2 separate regions of the Homo sapiens genome follow, and region 1 is linked to region 2. Evidence: fine-mapped expression QTL. A gene starts in region 2. The other region holds a variant in brackets. All regions are shown on one strand. Distances are from middle to middle.

Region 1 (5,372 bases), 160 kb before region 2:
TTACTTTAAGTAACTTCCAAGAGAAGGTGCTATTAATTTCTTCAGCAGCCTACTCTATCTTCCTTAAAACTTTTATAGCCAAGAAATTCTTTTGGTTTTAAACTGAATTTCTATTGGGTTTACACCAGTTCCCATTTTCTTTGAGTGCTATAAAATTCTTCCCCTAGTTTCCCCTTCTCTGAGGGAATAACACCAGTCTCTTCAACTTTATTCAAATCTTTCACTGCACTTCTTAACTCACTCCAGTAGGGGCAATGCTAGGTGTACAGGAAAGAGAAAAGAAAAAAACCACACCCTCAGCACTACTTTGCCTGCTCACATCCTGGTGGACAGCATTCATCATGGTGGCCTGGAGCCACTGAGAAAAGGTTTCAATGTGTTCTGTAGTTTAATAATACAAGGTAGTTTCTAGTAACAGTTTTCACTAAAATGGTTAAAAAAAAGACATAGCATTTGAAGATAATGTATTTGTTACCCAGATTGTTCTCTTATGTAGAAGGCCTTAGTGCCAGATCATGCTGTACAAATAAGATACTACTGAATTTAGAGCTTGAACTTTTACCTAGTAAGTACCAGTTCCTTTTTAATTTTAGGTAGACAATGATTGTGGACAGCAACCATATATCAATTTGGAAATTTAGTTTATATCAATAAAATTTAATTTATATCATCTAATACATATTATTATAAAGGAAACTGTCCTAGTGGATACAGAGAAGTTGGAAGTATGAAACCTCCATCAATAATTATCATAAAAGGGTGAACAGAGTGTAAGTGTGATACCATATAGAATATGGTATAAGATAAAATAAAGGTATGAGATAAAATTCCAGGAGGTGGGATCAAAAAGCAGAGATTCTTGAGCTGGCTCTTAACAATGGGCAGGATTTTGAACAGACGGAGTCTAGGAAAGGACGAGGTGATCATTTCAAGGAAGGGACTGAATAGACAAAAAAATAGAGGTATAGGACCATGCTCAGACTATTTGAGAAAAAGGAGATTAGTAGATGAAAAAGCCTAAAGGACAGGCTGGAACTAGATGTTGGAAGACGTTAAATATTGAGCTAAGGAGTTTGCCTTATTCTGTAGGCATATAGATATGACCAAACATTTAAGGCTTGAATGGCTGCTATGCATACCAGAAACTATATTTATGAACTACTTATGAATGGTAGCCACACAAAACTAGAGAACAAGATAAATGGTTTTGCCCTCAGAAATGATTACAGCTAGGACTCTATAAAAATAAAAATGGTACACTGCATTTGGTAAGGTGGCCCTCCTTGGGATTACTGGTTTCATGGATAATTAGGTCAGGAAAGTATAGATAAGACTAGGGTAATTAATAAATAACTAAAAATATTATCTAAAAAGAGAAAAATAATCAAAATTCTTCTTTTAAAAGAATCATATTCTTCAATGTCAATAAATCATATAAATCAGTCCAAAACTGCTATTCAGTTATTTTACACTTTAATCAGACCTTAATCTTTTAATACCTAACAATATAGATTTAGATTCACTATATTTCTTCATGGTTTTCTGTAAGCGCATTTACATTGTGGTTTTTGCATCTGATGTAGCTGATGAAGATTGTGCAAAGTCCTAAATTTTCCTCCTTTCAGTTAATAATCAGATAAACTGCAATCTGGTAATCAAGAAGCACCTGGTTCCTAGCGACAGACTTTTTTTTTTTTTTTTTTTTTTTTTTTTTTTTTGAGACAGAGTCTCTCACTCTGTCACCCAGGCTGGAGTGCAGTGGCACCATCTCGGCTCACTGCAACCTCCACCTCCCGGGTTCAAGTGATTCTCCTGCCTCAGCCTCCCTAGTAGCTGGGAGTACAGGTGTGTGCCACCACATCCAGCTAATTTTTGTATTTTTTAGTAGAGATGGGGTTCACCATGTTGGCCAGGATGGTCTCGATCTCTTGATCTTGTGACCCACCTGCCTTGGCCTCCCAAAGTGCTGGGATTACAGGCATAAGCCACCACGCCCGGCCAGTGACAGATTTTTACATGACGAGAAATGACTATTATCATGGGTTATCTGGTCATCATGTTATCTAGATATTTTGAATTGATTCTCCAAATGTACCCCTAACACAACATTTACACATCCAGTATAATATAAACAAGGAGGAAAAAAAAAACTACCATTTTTAAAAACATTATCCATGTGCATACTTTTATATATTATGCCGGTTTTAACTGAGAAGGTTCAGAAGATATGAGTGCATATAAGATAAATATTTCTTGGGAAACCTCTAGATACAAACACTGTATTAATTTCCATAATAGAAAAGGGAAATTAACAAAATAAGGTAAGAGTTATTTCTACTAGCAAGGCCCAGGATAAGCTGCCTAGAAAATTATTTTTCTAAATGGAAATATACCTTTTCTGCTTTGTACTGTACAAGATTATAGGCAAAATTT[C/T]AGAGAGCTGAAAATCCTTTCAAATAATACTTCCTTTAGCTTTAATCACAAATAATTGCCTCTTTTGGTGCTAATGAGCATGAGCACCACAAAATGGAATGTAATTCTGTCGGTTCATTCAGGGTAATGGCTTTGTGCATGAGGCCTGCTGCCGAGAGATCTAGTCTCAATTTCCTAGAGTACAATCACTGAGCAGCAGTACATTTTTCACTTGAGGAAGATGTTCTAACCTATGTAAATATAAATAGAAAGCCCATTATCTATTGATAAAAACAACAATGCAGGTTAAATAAAGTTTTATATTTTACTGTTTCCTGTAACGGCCATCAGCTTCCTGGATCATGAAAGTAAATAAAGTACTTCACTTACTGAAATCAATGAGAAACCGTCCAAATCCTTGCCTTTGGTGCTGGGGCATGATCATTATGCAGGAGACATTATACTTCTGCTGGCAAAGCTTTTCCTGAGGGAAGGAGAAACAGATCAAGTATGTCAGAGCCCTGCTGAAGTGGGCAATTCCCTGCACCTGCCACTGTCCTTGTAAAACTGTCCACTAAAGAAAGCCAATGGGTTAGGTCAGGATCAAGCAGAAAAATCCTACTATATTAATCAATCAAACTATCAATTAACAACAAACCATCGACTCTGACATGCCTCTCAACTACATCTTTATTCTTGAAAGTCAGTGCCATAAAATATGCATAAAGAATCCAAGGAAATATATGAACCAAATAAAACAGAATATAGACAGCATAAAAGAAATGCTTTCCTTGCTCAAATAACTTCAGAGATAGAGAAAATAACATCCCAGGGAGTCACCCAGTGGAGTAAGTTAGGATTTAGCTGGCTATCTTGCTAAATATAATAATAATCTACAACTCTGCAACAGCAATCTGTCTTCTGCCTTTGGGCAAATGTCCCAGTGAAACTAAAACAGTATCTGTGTGGGTAGATGTGCACACATATATTTCTCCTATGAATAAAAAGTCAATGTAAAAAGCTAGAGAAATAATCTGCATTTCAAACCAGGAAAACAAAATAAAATGAAACAAAAAGACAACAACAAGAAACCCTAAAGCCTCCAAACAAAGGTTAGACCAAAATATTACGAACAGTTTGAAACCAGGAGGAAGACTGGGTAGAACATGGTAAGAAACAGCTCTTACAGTTAAAGAAGAATTTGCAACTTTCATGGGATGTGGCATCAGGGCAGTATTTTTTTATTCAGAGTACAAAGAAGTTGCCAAAACCTACACAGAGATCTGGAAAAGGCTTTTGAGGTCGTGGATGCTCTGGCCAAATATAAACCACAAATAAGACTGACCACAAATGGTACAGACCACACCAAAGAATTACTTCAGAACACCCAGATCTTTAATGAACCAATTTGAAAGATCACAGGAGATGGTTGTGGAAAAAACCCTACAGGGCAGAATTGAAGATTTCTTTGTGAAAAAGATGTACTCCCAACTTTTGCACATTTGTAGTTGTCTATGGAGCCTCTAAAAAATGAGGATGAAGCAATGTGTGTCAGTTTTTCTAAGAAGATGAATTGTCCCTCACTGGATGTGCACATCAATGGCAAAGGTTCAAGTAATTCGTCTGTTTTGCAAAGTTAGACAAATGGGTCACTCTCTCTAAAAAGAAATGTACTCTGGGTTAAGAGAATTCATCCTTGATACCATTCCTTGCTTTGTCCAGAACCATTTCCACCTTTCGGAGTTTTTTGAGATCCAACATAGTAGTGATCCTTCTTCCCCTCCGTGCAGCTTAACATGTTACTACAGCTAAATTCTAAGCTATGAATAAAATAACTAATCCTTCTTTCCTTTCTGTTTACAGCCATCTATTATGTGCTTGGAAAGTCATATGCATGTAACAATTTGCACTGAACCTTTCCAGGTCATTCCAGCCCTTCTCTGGCTATCCTTGAACTGTAGTTCTAATAACCTCTAGAATGTGGTTCAAGAATAGCCCCAAAGGGCCAGAGTCCTCTAGATTCCAGCTGACACATGAGAATATGGTTTAGTTTCATCTAGTCTTTTTTTTTTTGAGATGGAGTCTTGCTGTTGCCAGGCTGGAGTGCAGTGGTGCAATCTCAGCTCACTGCAACCTCCGCCTCCTGGGTTCAAGGGATTCTCCTGTCTCGGCCTCCAGAGTAGCTGGGATTACAGGGTGCCACAATGCCCAGCTAATTTTTGTATTCTTAGTACAGACGGGGTTTCACCATGTTGGCCAGGATGGTCTCTCGATCTCTTGACCTCATGATCTGCCCACCTCGGCCTCCCAAAGTGCTGGGATTACAGGCGTGAGCCACCGCACCCGGCCTCATCTAGTCTTTTAACATGCTTATTTTTTAGATTAATTTTTGTTTCACTATACTGCCAAGGCATATTAGTATTCCAGAATAGTAGGAAATAACAGCAGCTGCTGCCATGCTATAGAAGAAACTATGAGAAAAGTTGAGCTAGTTCTGAGTAAAATTTTGGGTACCCTGGCAGGAAGAGAGGCAGAAATTCAAACTTCAAGAATCACCACCAACTCTACACATGGCTGCTACTCAGCAGCCAACACAAGACCCAGGAGTGGGATGGTCAGTGCAGCACGAGGAAGGTGGGCACCGTTAAGCCTATGTTTAAATCCACAGACAATGAAAGAAACACCATTTTCTAACAGCAAGGACGCAACCACTATTCTTTTTAAGTTTCTGGAGAAGAATGATCTTGACAAACCTACATAAAAGGTAAGGTGTTTTATTTATTAATCATATAGATTTCCTATTTATTGTTTTATTCAGTGTTAATTCTCTATCATCTTTTGAATTTGTAATGTGCAAATTAACTTTCTTCTTTTTCATTTTAAAGCTTTACCAAATATGTGGATTAAAACACTGAGACAGTTTTCCATGAATGCTGTTACTTATTTTTGTTTATGATCTT
Region 2 (5,372 bases):
TCAGAAGCCTAAGTGTGGCTAGTAAGCAAAACTTCCTCTGCCGACCGTGTCATGACCATCAGCCATTCCCTAAATTCCTCTTTTAATGTTAAAATCTTCCTCTGTCTCTCTCTTTTCTTTTCTTTTTTTTTTTTTTTAAACCATCACTTCACCACTCCAACCTTTAACTCTCAGTAGAAGTTCTCGGAAAAGAAAAAACATGTGCATTATCCTTTCCTTCTTAAAAACATAAAATACTGTCCAAATTCATTCTGATAAATGTGTAAAGAACTTATGAATGGCCGGGCGCGGTGGCTCACGCCTGTAATCCCAGCACTTTGGGAGGCCGAGGCGGGCAGATCACAAGGTCAAGAGTTCGAGACCATCCTGGCTAACACGGTGAAACCCCGTCTCTACTAAATATACAAAAAATTAGCGGGGCGTGGTGGCAGGCGCCTGTAGTCCCAGCTACTCCGGAGGCTGAGGCAGGACAATGGCGTGAACCCGGGAGGCGGAGCTTGCAGTGAGCCGAGATGGCGCCACTGCACTCCAGCCTGGGCGACAGACTGAGACTCCGTCTCAAAAAAAAAAAAAAAAAAAAAAAGAACTTATGAGTAAGAAAAAAATGGAGTGTTTTATTTCAAGGCTATGCCAAAAAATCTAGGGTATACAAGTAAGACAGGAAGAATGCACTTTAAAAAAAAAAAAACACAAAAAACCTTCTTGGGGCCCCATAGAACTAAGACTGTTCGAACACAACTAATTTCCATTTGCTATTTCCACCTTCTGTCCATATAGGAGGGGCCCTCATATGCTCTACCCTGAATTTCCTTGGTACCTCCAACCCCAAACATACTTGGTTCGTTGGTCTTCATTTCCTATTTCCCACATCTGTAATTCTTTATCACTACCCCTTCACAACTTCTGTCTAACACTCTCTTTAACACGTCCCAACACCTTCTACCAATTACAGGGCTTAAACTCCTTCATGGGGCATAGGACACCATTTGTAATCTAACCCCTCCTCTGCCTTTGCCTGGTCATCTCCTACCACTCCCTGCACTCTGCCCACAGCAAAGTACTAGCAAATTCAAAGCTATGCAAAATGTCCTATCCCAAGGTATGGTGCATGTCTCTTCCTGGGATACCCTGCTGCCGGACACTCCCTTGAAGACTCCAGATCAAGTTTAACATAATGAATCCAGCGTATCACGGGTCGCCATAGCTCACGTCTGTAATCCCATCAGTCAGGCAGAGGTGGGCAGATCACTTGAGGCCAGGAGTTCGAGACCAGCCTGGGCAACATAGTGAGACCCTTTTCTCATTTTTATAAAAAATAATAAATACAGCCTATCAAACAACTTGTCTCCCAAACTAACACCTTTCTCTGCCCCATCCTCACCCCTGGCACAGTCCACCAAATCACATTCACCGAAAATTACTGTACAGCTCCACCCACTTTCTTCACACCTGCCGCCTTGTCCCACCCCTACCAATCCCTTGTCCCCAGGAGATTTTCTGCCACAGATTTTGCAAGTTCTAAGCAGCCTCTCTCCCCTTCCTTCATATTTAAGTTTGCTCTGCTGTCTTAGCATCATCTTTCAGAAACTCTCCCAAGCACAACCATCCCATCCTTCCACGTTTTTAAAAAATACTTCATACCCCAAAGCTAGCAAACCTCCTTCTTATTCCAACATGCGATCCACCCAGATACCTCTTTCCCATCACTGCAATCGTACCTGCTCCTCACATGCGCCTCAATGCCTCCCCAAACCCCTCAACGCCTCCCCAAACCCAACACTCTGCACCGCTTCAACTCTACTCCACATCCACCACACCCAAACCCACCTACTCTGCGCCCAGACAACTGCAATCTCGCCTTCGGTATCATCTCACCTGCCCTCACACACCCCTCGGTCCGCCTTCCACTTCTCTCAAATTGCATCCCTCCCTAACTCTCCCTCTGCACCTGCTTCTACACCTTCAGCTTCTCCTCCCACCCAACCCTCACTAGTCTTCCTCACACCCTCGCCGGCCCCCCACCGCTCCTACCAGTTCACTCCCACTCAGAAATTCCCTCTCAGCCCCCGCCTTCCGACTCCCCGAACCCCGCCCCCACCCGATCCCGCCCCGCCCCCCTCCGCCCTCGAGCCCCGCCCCCTTGCCCTAGAGCCCTGCCGAGGGGCGGGGCCTGTCCCTCCTCCCCTTTCCCCCGCCCCCTACCGTCACGCTCAGGGGCAGCCTGACCCCGAGCGGCCCCGCGGTGACCCTCGCGCAGAGGCCTGTGGGAGGGGCGTCGCAAGCCCCTGAATCCCCCCCCGTCTGTTCCCCCCTCCCGCCCAGTCTCCTCCCCCTGGGAACGCGCGGGGTGGGTGACAGACCTGGCTGCGCGCCACCGCCACCGCGCCTGCCGGGGGCGCTGCCGCTGCCTGAGAAACTGCGGCTGCCGCCTGGAGGAGGTGCCGTCGCCTCCGCCACCGCTGCCGCCGCCGCCAGGGGTAGGAGCTAAGCCGCCGCCATTTTGTGTCCCCCTGTTGTTGTCGTTGACATGAATCCGACATGACACTGATTACAGCCCAATGGAGTCTCATTAAACCCGAGTCGCGGTCCCGCCCCGCCGCTGCTCCATTGGAGGAGACCAAAGACACTTAAGGCCACCCGTTGGCCTACGGGTCTGTCTGTCACCCACTCACTAACCACTCTGCAGCCCATTGGGGCAGGTTCCTGCCGGTCATCTCGCTTCCACATAAACACACCCCTCGACCCATCATCCCCCCCTCCGGCACCACCCCGGGGGAGGGTCCACTGCCAATACCAATCAACAGACCGCTGGGTCCGCCTCTTCCGGGCACCTATTGGTCCAGCCCTTTTTCTCTCTCCTAGATACCGCGCCACCTCTACTTCCACCTACCCGCCCCCTCCACCTCTAGGAAAGGATTGGGTCTACTCGCAGCAGAGGAGCGTAGCCTTATTGGCTGCAGACGACGCCAATCAGGAGGCCTTTTCCCTCTCCCCTCCCCCACTCAACCCCAAACCCCCTAGCCCGCAGCTAAAGTTTGTGTGAGAGCTGATCGCTGGCGGCGGCCGCAGGATTTAGGGGTGGGCGCGGGCGGGCGCGCGCGGGCGGGCACGCGAAGTTAAAATTCGAGGTTCTCAGTCGCCAGCTCCTTCGGTGGAGTGTGCGGACGGGCGCGCCGCCCGGAGCGTTCCATCCCGCCCCCTCCTCCACCCTCTCTCCCGTCCCGTCCCGTCCCGGGCGACTACTCGCCCGCCCCCTGGCTCGCATCCTTCCCCCCCCAACACACCCCTACCCTGCCAGCCCCAGGCCGGGTGCAGGCAGAACGATGTCGCTGCAGCCTCCTCGCCATCCCATGCCTCGGGGGAGCAAGCCCCTACCCACCGGGCGTGCACCCCCCGGCTCCACACTCGCCCGTGTCTGCAAGCACGTGCACCGCTCGCCGCTGCCTCCGGCCACCCGGGTCCCCGGCTAACCTCGCCTGCAGCCCGGCCAATCGCTCGCTGCCCTTTGTTGCTGCAGCCTGGGTCTCCCCGCTGCCTTCCTCAGCCTCCGCCTCGTCCTTTGCCAGCCGCCCGGGTCCGCAGCGCCGCGCTCCCCCCGCCCGGGACCCACCGCCGCCGCCTCCTTCTCCTCCTCCGCCTCCTCCTCCTCGGCTCCGGGCTGCAGCGCACAGAGCCCGAGGCAGCGCCGCCCAGCCCCGCTCCCCCCGCGCCGCCCGCCAGCCCGCCCGGCCTGGCCGGGGGCGCAGCCCGGACCCCGCCCGCCCCAGTCTCCGCCCCGGGGGTACCTGCCTCCGCCCCGGGGGGCTCCTCTCGCCGCCCTCGGGGGAGGGCGGAGACGCTGGTGTCCGCGGGAGGATGGGGACGCCTGGGCCGTTTGGGGCGGGGAGTGTGCCCGCCAGGGCTGGGACTGAGGTGCGGTCCTCGCCAACGCGTCCCCACTCCCGTCGCTGTGGGCCCCAAACTTCGTCCTTCGCCCAGGCTTTGCGCCTTCGGGCGATCGCGGCAGTTTTGGGGTGGGGGACGCCTCGGGAGCTGTGTCTACCCTGATCGGGAGGAAGAGGGAGCAGTGACATTCAGCGACTGCGGACAGGGCACGGCGGCGGCATCCTTGTGTGGGAGTGGGGATGTCAGACGCGGGCTGGAGGGGGAAGCTGCCCCCCAGGATGCTCTCTCCCTGCCTGCGAGGAGCTGGCGAGCTCAGCCGCGTTCTGGGTGCTTTCTTGGGCGGTGCAGGCGGATGGCAGAGGGGCTGAGGCGGGAGGGGGGCGGGGAAGACCGCTGGGGGGCCCTTCCCCCCCTCTCTTTTAGCCAGCGCTGTAAGGAAGGCTGATGGCGAAGTTCGGTTTTCCAGGCTTCCCCTGGGCCCCCCGAGTTCCTGAGGCCCACTTGAGGGAGACTGGGGGCTCCTCTGGCCGCCCAGGCGAGGCCACTCTGACGCTGCCCACATGCCTCCCAGAGCTCTCTGGACTCTGAAGAGAGCGCCCCTGGTTCTTTCCGGAGGTGAATGGGATGCTGGCAAGGGAGACTTCAGAAAATAGGAAAGGTGGGCTGAGAAATGGCTCCTAGAGAGTTTGAGCACGAAGTTTCCCTCCCAGGCGCCATTTCTTTGAGAGGGGGAGGAGAACTATGGCTTTGCAAAAGAACCAAGTTTCAGGCATGGTGGCCTGGGTGGAAAACCACCTGTTGCCTGAAGTCTGTCCCTGGAGTCAGGGCCATCTTGGGCCTGGGCATGGCTATGCCGGGTGCCAGGGAGGGGAGGCCCCAGGCTTCCTGCCCTGGTTGACTCCTGCAGCCTCATGCCACTGACACTGCAGCGGCATCTTCACCTTCCCATTAGAAACCACTGTACAACTAGGTAGGTACTTTGTTAGGACAACTTATCTTCGTCCTTATCTCAGACAAAACAAGCAGCACACGCAGCCCTGTCTTCAAATGCAGACCACAACACACACTTCATTTTTTAAAGATGGTCTGCTGCTTTGGGGTGTGAGCTCCCTCTCCTCCTGAGCTTCTTGGCAGCAAGGTGAGAAAGGAACTTAGACAAAGGGCACAGAGTTGGATGAAAGGATAGAGAAAGGTCGAGGGGGAGCAGAAGAATTGTAATACTACACTACAAACTGTCACCGGTTCCATTATAAACAGTTTTTATAGGTGTTTTATTACTTGGTTGTTAGTTTTTTAAAACACAAACCTCTTTAGATTAAATCTTGGCATTCACAGGCTCAGCCCAGGGAAACAAAACACAGAGAAAACTCCAGCCATCCGCTTGGCTACTTTTGAGTTACATTACTGATAAAACAAACAGCAGGTTGGGTTTCCTCAGACTCTGTCTCAGCCTCGTTTATTTAGTATCTTCAATAGCTTGCTCAAGG

The links. PIP is the estimated chance that this variant, and not a neighbour inherited with it, causes the effect. A credible set is the group of variants that fine-mapping cannot tell apart.
Region 1: its variant is the best candidate, but not a certain one, in a credible set for the expression of KAT6B in whole blood (INTERVAL, PIP 0.79).

Annotation. Positions count from the first base shown.
Region 1 is chr10:74,986,543-74,991,914 of GRCh38, reverse strand. KAT6B (lysine acetyltransferase 6B) reads right to left here. Exons shown (of 18, transcript NM_012330.4): 13 at 2,803-2,896. Among named protein-coding and RNA genes, the nearest start is that of SNORD172, 33 kb to the left of the region's middle. The variant C/T (reference allele first, on the strand shown) is at 2,434.
Region 2 is chr10:74,823,774-74,829,145 of GRCh38, reverse strand. KAT6B (lysine acetyltransferase 6B) reads right to left here and starts at 2,546. Exons shown (of 18, transcript NM_012330.4): 1 at 2,361-2,546. RefSeq lists silencers at 2,081-2,480, 3,171-3,370, 3,481-3,580, 3,691-3,860, 4,371-4,420 and enhancers at 2,696-3,467, 3,468-4,239.